Regions from separate parts of the Homo sapiens genome. Here region 2 is linked to region 1. Evidence: fine-mapped expression QTL. Tissue or cell type: cerebellar hemisphere. Region 1 holds a variant in brackets; the other region holds the start of a gene. All regions are shown on one strand. Distances are from middle to middle.

Region 1 (8,110 bases):
AGCAGCTATGTGTGGTGCAAAGAGAGAGAGATTGTTACGCTGAACTATAATTGGGTGGTAGAAATGTCACCAAGCCAGGCCTGCAGCAAAAGAAGGGACCAAACTGAACTCAGTAACTCTCAGTAGCAGAACTTACATTAGCATTTCTGCACATTAGTGAGAAGCACACAGCTCCTTATAAAACAAACTCCCAGCAAAAGAGCTTTGCATATTGAAGGCATTTATTCTTTTAGAAAGTACACCCAGTTAGTTATACTGTGTGATTACAATTATGTAAAAGAAATTATGCAATATAAAAAGAATGAAAACTGATGCAAGCAAAATGATACTAGTCGTTATCAGTTGTTGGGGTAATTTTTTTCTAGATTTCTAATTTTCTTTATTGAGTGCTTATTAGCTTCATAGTTGAAAGTAGAATTTTTAATAAATGAATTTTGCCAAATAAAAGCTCTATAGCTCCAAAGATAATTCATAAAATGATTAGATCTTATGAGACTCTGGTAAGCCGCTTAATTGGAAGAAAAATACTTTTAAAGTAGTAGCTATCATATATCAGCAATAATCAGTTAGAATGATGATTTGGAAAAGGATATATATATTTACATATATAGTACATATGTAAATATATGTATATATATAAATATGTGTATATGTATTTGTGTATATATGTAAATATATATATGAAGATAAATATAGGCCGGGTGCAGTGGCTCATGCCTGTAATCCCAGCACTTTGGCAGGCCGAAGCTGGTGGATCACCTGAGGTTGACAGTTTGAGACTAGTCTGGCCAACATGGCAAAACCCCGTCTCTACTAAAGATAGAAAAATTAGCCATACATGGTGGCATGTGCCTGTAATCCCAGCTGCTCAGGAGGCTAAGGCAGGAGAATTGCTTGAACCTGGGAGGTGGAACTTGCAGTGAGCTGAGATCGCGCCACTGGACTCCTGGGCAACAGAGCAAGACTCTGTCTCAAAAAAAAAAAAAAAAAAAAAAGATAAATGTATTTAAAGATTATTTATTCCCTTATATATATTAATCCAGGAATAAACCTAACTCTTGTTATGTGCAAATCTACATTTGTGAAGACTATATAAAATATTTTATCTGAATAAATGAAGTGACATACCTTGTTTCTGCATGGAACATTCAATACTATAAAGATGTCAATTTTCCCCATACTAGTGGATCATTAGAATAAAATTTCAGTAAAAATTCCAATGCAACTTTGCTTTAGAACCGGATATGGGCATTTGAAATTCATCTAAAGAAAAGTAGAAAAAAAATTTGGTTTTAAAAAAGGAAGAAAAACTAAAAAATAATAACAGACTGGTCTTTCCAGAAGTTCTATAAAACTACAGAAATTAAAACAACTTGAGGCAGGCATGGAAGAAAAGGGATGAAAGGAGAAGATGAGACTTGTGCATATGACATTTCTATCGTTTAATAAATTTAATGATGAGACTTCTATCGTTTAATAAAGAGGGCATTTCAAATCCAGGATTAATGATGGTCTGTTCAACGAATGGTGCTGAGGATGGTATTTGGGAGTAAAAGACACAAAAAAACCCCTCTAACTTCAAGTCATAATTCTACTTTATATACAGAATATATTTTGCATAAGGATTAATGATCACATGAATTAATGAGTGACAGATGGAAAAAACAGGGATATGTATTTTATAATTTGAGGATGAGGAAGTCTTTCCTAAATAAGAAGTAAAACAGAAATAAATCATGGAAGAAAATTGACAGACTTGACATAAAGAAATGAAACAATTCTGTAAAATATTGTAAAATAAATTTAAAAAGTGAACCGTAGGCCCAGAGCAGTGGCTCACACCTGTAATCCCAGCACTTTGGAGGGCCAAGGTGGGAGGATGGCTTGAGTCCAGGAGTTTGAGGCTAGCCTAGGCAACATGGTGAGACCCTGTGTTTACAAAAGATTAAAAATTAGCTGGGCATGGTGGTATGCACCATCCCAGCTGCTACTTGAGAGGCTGAGGTGGAAGGGTCGCTTGAGCCTGGGAGGTCAAGGCTGCAGTGTGCTGTGATTGTACCACTGCACTCCAGCCTGGGCAACAGAGCAAGACCCTGTCTCAAAAGAAAAAAAAAAAGCGAGTATTAGGCTGGGAGGATGACATTTGCAGCATATATAAGAGACAAATAATATAAAATAGATAAGCAACCAAATAACTAACAGGGCAAAAGGATATAGACATACAAGCCATAAAAGAAGAAATATTAAGTCTAATGCACATATTAAAAGATTTTCATCCTCATGCATTCATGACACACAAATTAAGAATCATTGAGAACCACCTTTCATATATTGTATTGCTTAATACACAAAAGATTGATAATACCCAGTATTTCAAGGTGGTGGAGGAAAGGAGGCATTTTTATATATGATGGCACAAGTGTAATTCAGTGAACCTTGTATTTGAGAATAGCTTTTTAAATAAACCAGCAATTTCACATCTAGAAGTTGATTCTACAGAATGACTTATACACATGCCCATGGATATATGCACAAAGCATTATCTGTAAAACTGAAAAAAATTAGAGTCAGCTTAATGCCCACCTATGAAGGAATAGATAAATTATGGTTTCATTGTGCTATGGAATACAATGCATTATCAATAAGGATGAAGTAAGATGAAGCAGATTATAGTAGTGTATACTTACTACAAAAGAAATGTATGATACATCATGGAGTTAGAAAATTGTTGCATAAGTGTGTGCAGTAAATAGCTTGATTATATTTTATTTTCAAAAACTCTTGTTAAAGGAGGAAGATTTTTACCTTTTATTTTATAAACTTGTATATTGGTTCAAATTCATTACTATTTTTTGTTTGTTTGTTTTGTTTTGTTTGATACGGAGTTTCGTTCTTGTCACCCAGGCTGGAGTGCAATGGTGTGATCTCAGCTCACTGCAACGTCTGCCTCCTGGGTTTAAGCAATTCTCCTCCCTCAGCCTCCTGAGTAGCTAGAATTACAGGCGCGTGCCACCACACCTGGCTAATTTTTGTATTTTTAGTAGAGATGGGGTTTCGCCATGTTGGCCAGGATGGTCTCTATCTCCCGATCTATGGTGATCTGCCTGCCTCAGCTTCCCAAAGTGCTGGGATTATAGGCGTGAGCCACCGCGCCTGGGCACTACTGTATTTTTAAAACACATTTTTTTAAAAATTAAGGTATTTGAAACCAAGTATCACTAAGTCAATCCACTTCCACAACTTTTCTGCCTTTCCTGGAGGAACAATTATCTCCACTCTGTTTACGAAAGATTCCTGGAGAGCTTTTAGAAAACAGGGATGCCTGGGCTCCATCTCAGAGCAGTTAAGTTAGGATATCAGGATTTTCAAGATTTGGTCTGCAGACCAGCAGCAGCAACAGTATCTGGGCGCTTCTTAGAAGTGCAAAATCTCAGGCCCCACCCCAGACCTACTATTTCAAAGTTTTCATTTAAATAATACCCCCCTGGTGATTTGTTTGCACTTTAGAGTTTGAGAAGCACTGATTATTCATTTATTGCCTACGTGACCTAGAGTAAGTTATTTAATTTCTGTACATTTCAGTTTCCTCAACTGTAAAATGAAGGAAAGTATTATCTGTGAAAGCTAAATGAGGTTTTATTCATTTAAAGTGTGTGTAAAGTGCCCAGTGCCCTGCCTGGCACATGGTAGATACTCAGTCAATGGTAGCTTTTATGATGGTGTTTACATCTCAAATATTGGACCTAAAATAATGGCGCCTCAGTAGATTGTTGTCCATTTACCAGCTCCCTAGATAATCCTGCATGCTCTGTCTCTCAGTAAGATCTGGAGAC[A/G]GATGATCAGGACACATGGAAAGCTCACCATGAGCGGGCTACTCTCCAGTACAGCCATGTGCTTCTGCTCCCACAAATTCAAGCGTGCCTTTACCAAGGGTCAGCTGGGCATGTGCTCTGCTGTTTATGCCAATAGTACTTGTTGCTGAGTTACATAATTTAATTAAATATTATGTAAACCAATGACATATGAGTATAAAAAGAGTGGTTGTTTCTATGAACCACTAAACTAAATGCTTTCAAAAGGCCTTTTACAGTTGTCTCACCCACACCCATTTTCATTTCAAAAAACGGGTGTGGGTGAGACAACTGTAGAAGACAAGAGAAAATGAATCGTATACATTTTAAACTATATTTGGGTTGTTTTGCAAATTTCTTAACATTTTCAATCCAATGTGAGGAAGCCAAAATTGGAACTCATAGTTGCTGTTTTGTGGGTGAGTTTAAGAAAGATCAGTTGCCTGTGCTTGCACAAAAGGTCTTGGCTCTACATCAAAAGATTGGGGATAAGTGTACATTTATATATCTCACGTTAAAATAAAATGCTTCAGGCCTGCTTACTGAAGGTTTGGAGCTCAACAGGCTACAAAGAGAGCAATATCGACTCCTCCCCAATCCCTCCTCCTTTATACCTACTGAATGGGCTGATTCTTTCCCTGTTCTTATATGAAGTCTCAAGCAGATCTCCCAGTCACTTAAAGGTTTTAAATATCCTGAGCTCACCTTTGGTCTTAACAGAAGTCTTATTTTAGTAATTAAAATGTTCAATTTAGTGTAATAACCAAATTCCAAATTTTTTACCCTCCCTGGGCTGACACCTGACTTTGGCCTACAAGCCTAGAGTGAGGGTCTTGGGAGTCTGGGGCTGGGGGCTTAGGGCATGGTTGGCATCTTTTCCTCTTCCGATGCTTCCCCTCACAAGCTGTCTTTCTATTCCCTCCAGGACTGGGCCCAGGGCTGGGGTTATGCAAAGGGCACATGGACGGAACCTCTGTGATCTGGCGTTGCTGCTCATTGAGGTTGAGTGCTCAGGGTGGACTCTCATGGGGTTCTTTGCCCCATGGGAAATCCCCACTGCACTGTCCATGATGAGGACAGCCACTCCAATGCCTGGCCACTTTCACTGCCAACACTCAGCCCTCTGGCTTTCAGTTGGAGGGGTCCTCTCTAGGTTTTTTTCCCCTAAGGACCTTCTCAAGAAGGCTTCAGGCTGGTTTCCTTACATGGACCCACGTGGCCAAGCTGAAAAACTCTCACATCCTTGTCTCATTGTTGGTGAAACTCCAACTTGCTCCTAGTGCCCTTGTTTTCCTCTTTGCAATTAACTAACTGCAGCTCCAACCACCATAGCTTACCTCTAGGAGAGTCAGACACCCAGAGTCTCCAAATATAGTTTGCAGATTTCTAAACATTGTTGTCTATGTGAATGGGACCTTCTAGAGTTGTGCATTGTACAACCTGAACAGCCATCCTCAGAGTTCAGACACTAGTCCACTGAATTCCAGAGGACATAGATCAAGTTCCTTATGTGACTCCCCCAAAGTCTTTCTCACTTGGATTAAGAAGAGGGGAAGCACACTTCTTCCCTCACCAAAAGAATGGGAAAATGCCACAATCCTTCAAAAACTTTCACCTTAGGAATCCTCGATTCTCATTCTCTGATCTCTTTAGCCTTTGTCTCAACTCTTGGCTCCATCTTAAATCTCTTCTAAGAGTCACAGAAGCAGTTGTTTTGGCAACCTGATTTGCATACTACACTTCAAAATATGAGTTTAATTCTGTTCTTAGAGCCTAGCCCTCCCACCCCCACAGATGGGACCAAAAGTGTTCCTGTTAAACCTTTAAGTGGCGTTTAAAATTATCTGAGCAACTGTGGATGAAGTTGCTGCTATACATGGAAATACTATATGTAGGAGAATTAGTCAACAGGAAGAATTCAGCCTTGTAGAAATCTTTCCCAGAAATGCTATTTTCCATGAGTACAATTGAGATCACCCTTGAAATATCTATCAGAACAAGTCTAAATAGACAGAGAAGGAAGCTGGGCTGAGGGGTGCTATTGGTATAGAGATTGACTTTGAATGTTCACATTTGCTATTATTTCTGTTAAAACTCAATTTGGAAAACATCAAAAAGTCACAAGAATGGAATAGTCTTAGCTTTTTTTTACTGCTTTATAATTTAAGATGATTGTGCAAGAAGTGTCAGGCCGAATATTTACCAATTTGCCTCATGCAAGAGCTTTGAACTCTATCAGAACCATGTCCCTAAACCACCAAGGATGCGGCAAGAGCCAGTCTTATTAATTCTGTCTGTTCTCTTGTCAAGTAATCTCATTTGCTCATTGGAATCCATGTCTCTCTAATTCTACAAGCCTACCTGTACCCTCCCTACAGAGGAGACTCTGTATCATAATTTTACAAAATGTTTTTGATTAGATGTAAGACAAATGATAGCCTTCTTTGTTCAGAGAATTTTAAAAAGGGTGACATTTTACCTGTCAACTATTATTTTTGCAAATTTCGTACCGGAGGAGGTTTTGGCTCTTGCTCTGCTGCTCTAGTTTTGGGAACTACCAAGGTAATGCCTTTAGACCTTTTTAGAGTTTTCACACTGATTGCTGATTTAAAATATAAATAGGTGAAATTATTGATGCTGTTGAACTTTTTAAAAATTAGTTTTCTTCTGCCCTTTAAAAGGCATTTAGTGATACAGTCACCTGGAGGTGGCTGTGTGCCCGGCTGAAAACTGGAGAATGCTAATACTAAGGAAAAGAAGGAAAACAGATGTTAAAGAGAAGCAACTAGCAACCTCTGCCACAATCCATTTTCTCCCTCTTTAGCCCTCTCCTCATCCAGACCTCCAAATTTGCCAAATCAAAAGGATTTTCTCACTCAAAAAAGCATCACTTTCACAACCCAGTAGAGAAAACCAAAAATTCCAGTCTCCATGACAATCACTGCTGTGGTGGCAGCCATATGATACTGCAGTCGAACACATCCTGCGTTCAACCACTGCTCACTGACACCCTTGCTTGAGCTATGAGATGGTTCCCCTTCCACAAGCTCAGCCACGTATCCCGAAGCAGAGCGCCACGACTGTGTTCTGATGGGCTTTACCCCTCATTCCTGGGCTGCTCCAGAACCGGCTTCCCCGTGGTGCAAGCTCAACCCAGTGGCCAGACCACCTCTTCTCTCCTGCTGAATTCCTCGTTAGGCCCTTGTCCTTTTTGGTGGGCTTTACATGTTGGGGGTTTCAAGGTCAGCACTGCAGGAAGCAAATTTCCTTGAAGCCCTTCAAACTGCAGTAAAACTACATGGCCACTGGGTGGAAAACAATACCTTGTTAATGACCCTGAAACCCAAAGAACAGGAGCTGCAAACATGTGACCTGTGTTTTTGTTTTGTTACCATGGACAATGTTGAAAAAAAATTAGTTGCCAACATTTAAAAATTAGAACATTTCACATGAAACGCTGAATTTCCAACTTGTATTATAATCTAGAAATTAGAATCTCTCTCCACATTCTGGGCCTGAATTCCTGCGTGGCAAAAGATAGTTAAAGTGTTTCTTGGTATCCTGTGATAATAAATGCATTTGAAAATGTGAACCCTGAAATTGTACAGCAGTGTCCAGTGATAAGTTGAATGAATAAACTTAAAAGTAACTTTAAAAAGATTATCCTGAAAGTAAAAGTCAAACTTAAAATTCTCATTGATGACTTGAAGACTCCCAATAATGCATTGCAGATTCACTTCCCAGGATGAAATATACTCTGTCAGAGTCCCCATCATTCACCTGGCAAATTCCTCCAACTCCTTCTGGACCCAGCCAGAAGCACTGTCCCCTGTACTGAAACTGCCCCAGTTTCCCCAGGCCAATTCTCTGTGTTTGCATTATACTGAAATACTACTTACCTTTTTCTGATTCAGAAGTCATCATTCATTTGTCTCCACGACTGACTTGTGAGCAATTTGAGGGGAAAAGATGGTAATTTATATAGTGTGTTCCTAGCAGCTGAGCCATAATAGCTGGTTAATGTTTGTTTGTTTATTTATTTATTTGTTTATTTATTTGAAATGGAATCTCGCTCTGTCGCCCAGGCTGGAGTGCAGTGGCGTGATCTTGGCTCACTGCAACCTCTGCCTCCTGGGTTCAAGTGATTCTCCCACTTCAGCCTCCTAAGTAGCTGGGATTACAGGCACATGCCACCATGCCCAGCTAATTTTTGTATTTTTAGTAGAGACGGGGGTTTCACCATATTTGTCAGGCTGGTC
Region 2 (8,110 bases), 110 kb before region 1:
TTGAGATGGAAAGAATAGCTGCCCTGCCCCCTAGAAACAGAACTTCTGGGAAAAGCAGTCAGTTTGCAATATGAAACCTAAATTAAAACATGGTTGGTTTAAGGCAAAAGGGACTTACCACAAGTGGAGATGGATATTCCCTTAACAGATCACAGCTGGATATATTAAACTTTAAGTCATGTTCATAGAAAATATGTTTACAATGCATGAAGATTCTTTCAAAGATAAGGCAATCAAAGGTGTCCAGCACAGAAGAGATGGAAAACAAAAACTGGCAAGACAAGGACACCGGATTCTGAAAGAAGACTTTGTGTCAACAATAGCTTCACCAGATTGGTGTACAAAAGTCTGACCATAGGAAGGGGAATTATGACGGCTAAGAAACAGGGCCCATCTACCCATGTTAGGACTCACTGACACATCTTTGTGCCCACTATGTACTAAATACTGTCCTAGGTCCAGCCGTGAAGACCTCTGCACTCATGGAGGTTATGTTTTAGTTAGGGAGAGAGACAAAGAACAAGAAAGCAAATATATGGTCTGGAGTTAGGTAATGATATATGCTCTAAAGGACAGGAAAAAATAAAGCAGAATATGAGAAAGAATGATGTAGGGGGCAGGCATTTGAGATAATGCCATCTGGCAATCAACAAAAATCAACTGAACTCTTAAGAGGAGGTGGCAAGGTGAAATTCAAATTTTTAAAGCTATGAAGCCTTTAGTATATTCATTTAAAATATGTGCTGCCTACTACTACATGAAGCGCTATATTGGTGCTGGAGATTACAGGAAAACACACGCATTTGAAGGTATCTGAGAACTGGTGCACACTGAGGAGAAAACCAATGGCATGTGAAAGGCTGAGGAAGTACAGAGGGGAAGCCAAGGTTCCTGCAGGGCAAGTAGGACAAAACAGTGTCACCCTATGAATGACCTTTTCTTCTGAAGTTGCTTCCAACTTGAATATTCTGACTATATTAGAAAAGGATAGATGCTGGAGCAGTGATATGCTTAAGGGAAAAGAAAGAAGCAGAGGGAGGAAGATTTTTATAAGATTCGGCAACATTCATTCAACAGATAAATAACTGTTTATTGAGCAAGACCTATTGGGTGTCACAAGGATGAGATTCTGTGCTGAACAAAGGTAAGGCCGGGCATGGTGGCTCACGCCTGTAATCCCAGCACTTTGGGAGGCTAAGGCGGGTGGGTCATGAGGTCAGGAGATCGAGACCATCCTGGCTAACATGGTGAAACCCTGTCTCTACTAAAAATACTAAAAAATTAGCTGGGTGTGGTGGTGGGCACCTGTAGTCCCAGCTACTCGAGAGGCTGAGGCAGGAGAATGGTGTGAACCCAGAAGGAGGAGCTTGCAGTGAGTGGAGATCGTGCCACTGCACTCCAGCCTAGGCAACAAGAGTGAGACTCCGTCTCAAAAAATAAATAAATAAAAAATAAACAAAGGTAAGCAAAAACACACAGACATCTCAAGAAGGTTACAGTGAGACTGCCTTTGTTAGCACAGAGCCAAAAAGGATCAAACTGCGGGTATGGGGGAGAAGTAGGTGGATGCAAAAAGGATGGTGAGGCTATCACCCAACTGCAACCAAACTGAAGATGAGGGATCTGATGCAAAAGGTTAAAAGATTAGGGAAGTAACCATCAAGTCCATAGCTTAGGAGTAGTTTAACCGTGGTGTCCTTTCCATCCCACACTAACTACATCTGGATTAAAATCATCTGCTTCCTCCCAAAGATGTGAATCATGCCTCCTTTAATCTCTATATTCCCAATAACTTGTAAATAATGGAGTCTCAATAAATGCTTGGCTAAGGCTAAGTTATAATGACATGAGTAAAACAGGAGAGACTAAATAAAGATTTGATGGGTGTGAGAAGCAGGATAGAAGATTCCTGCTAGGTGTCCAAAGCAATTGTATTTGGCTGACATCTGAATGAACAAGACCCACCAGCAACTGCATCTAACTCACTGGACAGCCCTGAGAAAGTCACCTCAATTCTGAATCTGAATTTGTAAAAGGAAGATATTGGCGCAAACCAGAAGTTGCAGGCCTTTCAGTGGAAAGAAGGTGGCTGTTATTACACTGAAACCTGGAGAGTGCATCTTTGCTGCCCTGGTAAGGGGTACCGGCTTCCCCTTAAGCTGTGCTTCCAAACAAATTATAGAGAGGAGAACATACAGCTGGTATGGCCACCAAAATAAGGACCTTTGAGGCTTGTGAACAAAACAGATGCGCTTGTGTGTGGCAGGTAAGGAGACAGGGGTTTGGAGCAGGAGCAGCAGAGACCAGTGGTAATAAGTTATACAGATCTCAGAGGTGAGACAACAGATAGCCCAAGGAAAGAATGGAAGGGATGGAACAGATATCTATGTTTGCAAGGTGGTTCTCATGTCTGGCATGTACACACCCAGGCACCAAGACACACAATAAGTCAGGGAGAAGTAGATTTTACACAACCTAAAAACTTTAATACTAATTTAACAGCTGTTAGAGCAATAATAATCCATTAGCAAGATCACCTGTAACCTTTGAAAAGCTTGTTTATTTACCATATTTACAGAGTGCCATCAGACTATATTTTGAGATTCTGACAAGTTTCCATTTAGGATCACAGAAAGACCTGACATTTCGGCTTGGCATGGGAAATTATGTAATTTCCCATGCCAAGCTGAATTCCCCAACATTACAGGAAAACCCACAAACCCTGCAGAAGGGAGTGAAAAGCCAATCCAGTCAAAGGAAATCTTCCAGTTCTACAAAAGAAAACAAAAAAACAAATACCACAAAGAGCAATGAATCATTTCTAGTGAATAACTTTTCACTCCATCTTCAATAATGTCATCCTGAAGCCCCTGAAAACTATTAAATTACATATTCTATATTCCTGGTGATATCACTGCCTAAAATTACACAACTTAAAGCAGTGAGGGAGCTGACGACTGGTAAGAAATCTTCAAGGACGTAAAAGGCCAGAAAAAAATCATGTGTTTGAAAATGCCTGCGAAATAATAAACGCCTGAGGGAACTTGATGGCTTTGCTGCTTCTAAGCTAAATAAAGCCTGGGGGGCTTTGCAAAGGTCCTAGTGAGGATAATCTCCATGATTACACAGAGCAAACATCCAATCAATTCCACATGAACCCAGGAAAGTTAATCCAAGAAGAACACCACCACTTAAAATATTGAGAAAAACACACAGTTCTTATTGTTTAAATGCTCCATCAGCGCTGGAGAACGTATCAGGTCATTCTAACAAGTCAGAACACTTGACTAGTGTTTCTGTGACAATGATTTGGCTTGTGTTAACTAAAGGGCAACAAGAAGTTTGCGTTCCAAAGCTCAGGCCTAAAACAGGTCCAATCCCCGACTGCCAGCAGTCTCCCTACTTCCTGCACACCTTTGGATTATTGCACACCGACTTCCTGCACACACCTGGGTTTGAGACACCTTCCCCGAGGGGTTACTCTAGCTAAGTTCCCGAGGCAAGCTTGAAAGAAGTTCGCTGTACCCCTACTCTCGGTCAAAGCACCATCAGCACATGTCGCTTGACAAGTTCGGCGGCAATGGAGTGATCAATTTACATAAACAACTCTGAAGAGATAACGCATCACTGCAAGGAGAGAAAGTCAGCAGGACGACTGTGCCCGCTCCGGGAAAGGCGGCTGCAAGGCTGGCCCGCGGGCAGAGCCTCCGCTGACGTTCACCGCAGCTCCCACCACGCAACAGGTCCACGTAGGCAAGGCCCGGGCGGCCGGCATCTGGGCACCTGCCCCTAGCGCTCCAGGCCCAGCTCTCCCCTGCGCCCATCTCGCGTCCACCCCCGCAGCCACCGCAGGCCAGCCGGCCAAGCCCACCCGCGATAAAGCACGGAGCACATTCCTCATTCCTCCCAAGATGCCGAGATAGTGCGGCCCGCTTGAGCGCTGCCCAGGTCACAAGGTCCTCCGGGACATGCCTTGACTAAAGGAGAGGCGCGCCCGGCCCTTGGTGGGGGAACGACCCCGGGGAGTGGAGGGGGGGAGGATGCAGTGCTCTGTAGCTTCCAGATGGAAACAGCCCGAATCACCCGGCTTCTCACCTGACCGGGCACAAGTGCCAGGTGTCAGTACCTAGCATGGATCTAAGTTACTTAACAGTCCAGAACGCTTCTCCAATAGCACGAGCCCCAGTGACTACGCGCAAAATATCCGGTCACTTTGAATAAAATGAAAAGGAACTTTTACTGGGAAAGGATGGAAGTAAAGAGACAGGGGGAGAAAGAAGCAGGTGAATGCATAAAAGAGGGAAGGTTCCTTCACGCCGGACCCGGAGATGGAAGAGGGGACGAGAGAGGATGGGAGCGGAAGGGACAGCAGACGAGCGGGCAGAGCGCTCAGGTGAGGCCGGACCCTTACCTCGGGCAGCTCGCGGAGCTGGTTGGCGTCCAGCAGCAGCTCCTCCAGGCTCCGGGCATAGCGGTAGATCTCCTCGGGGACGTAGACCAGCGAGCAGTGGCGCTTGTCGATGCTCTCCACATGACGGTTGCACCGCCACAGGGGGATGCAGTGGAACATCGCCGCCCCCGCCGCCGCCTAGCCGGGTCCCGAGCGGCGGAGACCCGGGCTCCGAGCCCGCTCTGGCCGGCGGCTCCGCTCAGTCCGCTGCCCTCTCCGCGCTCGTTGTTGGCTCTTGGGTTAGCTCGCTTCTCGCGCCGGGCTTCGCGGTCGGAAGTGCTTCAAGGAACCTGGAGCGGGAGCCCCTGCCCCGTCCCTGTACCCCCGCCCGCCAGCCGGTGCCTCCACTCCCACCCGCCAGTCGCCGTCGCCGCCCCCGCCGCCGCGCGGAGCTTCCTACTCGCAGCCGCCGCGCGGACTGAGCATGCGCGCCAGTGGGTGCGCGCCGAGGGCGTTTCCCGGCCCGAGGGATGCTCCGCTCCGGGTTTTCCCGGCGACCTGCATCCAGAGAGGGTCGACTGACCTGCGGGCCGGCTGCTGGCGGTCTGCTTACTCCGGCAAAGACGGGGGCGCATCGGGCCGTTTGAGGAAGGCAGACTGTGAAAGGACTTGGGACAAAGATGAGGCGGAGTAGAGGCGGCCTGAGCAGAGCAGAACAACTTTGATATTTAGTTTTATTTAACTCGCACTCCTCTCCTTGCTCCCCTTCCCCAAAACAACTTTCTCTTCCGGGGTCACACAGGACCGCCCCAAAGCGTACCTTGCGCGCCGGGGGCGCCAGGCGCTACTGGATTCGGTGTAGTTTTGAGGTGTTTGCACCACCCTCGCTGCTGCTTTCGTGGCTGCCCGTGTGCCCGCTGCTCACGGCTGCCCCAGAAGTGTGAGCTGGCCGCGCCCGGCCCTCTGGTCCTCGGGCACCGCCTGCAGGCTTTGTAACTTGGGAGCACATCTCTGGTGATCATGGTTTATGCAGTGAGTGATAGTAAATCCTCCTCCCTGTACCAGCAAAGGCATAGGAGTCTGAGAGTCTGCGAGATTCTCATAGATGTGGTTGCACCTGGCAAGGAGCCCAGCTGCAGAAATAAGCAGGCAAACGCGAGTTTCTGAGCCAGTTCCAGCCCGGCCCAGATGTTGGCCCCTGACAACTAGCTGTGGCTGGTGCGGAGGGAGGAGCGAGGGAAGAGGGGCAGATCGAGGCTGCCAGGTGAGCATCCTCCATACAGCTCCTGCTTTTCTGCTACAACCCCAGTCCCGTCCAGCCCGGATGACCGGGGAGGCTCACTATTGGGTTATAACAACCATTCCCTCGCCCCGACTCATTCCTGCGGACCACGGCCGGAATCCTGAACTGCCCCTCTTTGCCTGTAACTGTTTGCAACACAGTCCCCATCTCCGAATAACCAAATTTTCTCCTTTAATGAAGGGTTGCTAAAGTCAAGGTCAATCACAATGATGAATCATTTCCTTGGGGGCTTCTCTGATTCCCCACCCGGCCGCCCCTTCGTTCCACACTTTCCCTTTCAAGCATACTCAAACTCCAGGTTTCCACCTGCGGCCGCTGCCACGCTGGCTCTCCCACACTCACTCCCGCCCTCCAGCTGCTATAGCTAAAATCTGGAGCCACGGAGTTCACTTTTCTATAGAAGACAAAGCTGAGCATGCTCAGTGGCCAAGGCAAAGTTTGGTCGGAAACTAGTTTTTGCATTAGACTCTCCATGGGCTCCATAGACTCTCCTGTACCTTACGACTAGGCACAGGAGCGTTTCCCCGGTGAAATGGAGAAGAGGACACTTGGTCTTTTCAACTTTACTAGGAGGGCTCCTTTCTTCCCAGTCCGTAAGGAGGGGTCTGACTTTCATTTCCACCCCAGCATTATCACCTTAACTCTCATTCCAGTCAATCCCGAAACTCCGTTGCCCTACCCACTTCACCCTTCTTTTGTTTGTCCTGATTTGATTCCTGCGTTCTCACAGAGGGCTACCTGGACTTTGAACCTCCACCCCCCTTTCTACATTCTTGCATTCCAGAAACATATGAAGCTCATTTCTGCCACCCTTCCTAGAAAACTGGTTCCTGACAGAGACATGTGGAAAGGTAAGTAAGTCCCTGTCTTCAAGTTTTCCAACTGCTTTTTAAAAAAAAAATTAAAGAAGGCTAGTTCCCTCCATTTAAAATAATGTGATTTCCAGAGGTTATCACACTAGATTATTTTAACGAACACCAAATGTATTTTAAAGACGTGTCCAGTCTTTTAAAAATTCAGACCTCAATAAGCATTCCTTGTGTGCCTCTCCATGATGCTTCAGCTTCTCTGTGTTATTATTTTTGTATCACCTTAATCCGAAAGAGATTATGACCTCTTAAACAACAGATACTGTCTCACTTGCTTTGTAGATCTGGGAAGCTGCCACAGTGCCATATGCACAGTCAATGATCAACAGTTTTTGTTGATTTAATTCTATGGGTAGTCACTGGGAGAATTCTTGACTTTCCTTGTTTCCAATAATCTGCCAAGAATTTGAAACAGCGTAGTAAGAGAGAAAAAATGAAACAACACCTTGTCAACTACAGAATAGGGAAGCAATTAACTTTTTACTCACCTGAAGAATTTTAGGGTTTCCCGCCTGATAAAACATCTAGTTTCTTCCGCCACATACAAATGAGTTTGACTCAATTTAAACAAAGTTTAAAAAGACCACCTAAATCACTTTATTCTTAGAATAATGTAATTCTTTTATTCATTTGTACTGTGAACCATGTTTTCACAGCCTTTGAGCTAAAGAGATCTGTGTTTGAACTCTTGTTATGCCACTAGCTTCGTAGAAATTGACAGTTTACTTAACTTGTATAAGCCTCAGTTTTATCATATCTCAAATGAGGATGATTCATGGGATTGTTATCTGGATTAAATGAAATGACATATGTAAAATGCTTAGTACAGTATCAGACACACATTACTTTAATCAATAAATATTAATTATGCACTTTATTAGCCAGCCTCCAGGAAGTTAGGGACAACATCCACCATCTCCTGGTTGGTCTATGTAACCAACTTTTTCTTTCTCGAATCACTCACTTTGGGGAAGCCAGCTGCCATGTTGAGCAAATCTAGAGCTCCACATGCCAAAGAATTGCAGACTGCTGACAACAACTAGCAAGGGACTGACGATTCTTGGCAGTAGTCATGTGAGTGAGCCATCTTGGAAGCCAGTTCTCCAGCCCTTGTCAAGCCTTCAAGTGACTGCAGCACCAGCTGATAGCTTGACTAAAACCTCATGATAGCCTCAGACTCAGGACCACTCAGCTAAGCTGCTCCCCACTCTTGCCCCTCAGAAATTATGTGAGACAGTAAATGTTTGTTGCTTTAAGCTGCTAAGATTTGGAGTAATTTATTACACAGCAACAAATAACTAATAAAGGTACATACTATGCACCAGGCATTGTGCTAGATACTAGAAATGTAAGAAAAACAAGATAGGTCTTAGCCTCATGAAGCTTACTCTCTGAAGTTAGGAGAATGATAAATACTTAGTGGTCTGTTGTTGCTTTATCATTAATTTTTTGAGCATGATATCATTAATTTTTTTAAGTGAAAATCCAAAGTGTTAGCGTGTAAGATAGGGATTCTTGTAAATGGGGATTCAGAGGTTTGGGCATGTG

What was found. PIP is the estimated chance that this variant, and not a neighbour inherited with it, causes the effect.
Region 2: LRRC1 starts here. The variant in region 1 is fine-mapped to the expression of LRRC1 in cerebellar hemisphere (GTEx, PIP 0.94).

What each region holds. Positions count from the first base shown.
Region 1 is chr6:53,678,645-53,686,754 of GRCh38, reverse strand. No RefSeq gene overlaps it. Among named protein-coding and RNA genes, the nearest start is that of KLHL31, 17 kb to the right of the region's middle. The variant A/G (reference allele first, on the strand shown) is at 3,834.
Region 2 is chr6:53,791,717-53,799,826 of GRCh38, reverse strand. LRRC1 (leucine rich repeat containing 1) reads right to left here and starts at 4,822. Exons shown (of 14, transcript NM_018214.5): 1 at 4,412-4,822. The coding sequence starts at 4,570. It overlaps LOC124901333 (a long non-coding RNA gene), which reads left to right and starts at 6,152. Exons shown (of 5, transcript XR_007059619.1): 1 at 6,152-6,286; 2 at 6,478-6,544. RefSeq lists an enhancer at 4,038-4,750 and silencers at 4,717-4,956, 6,002-6,131.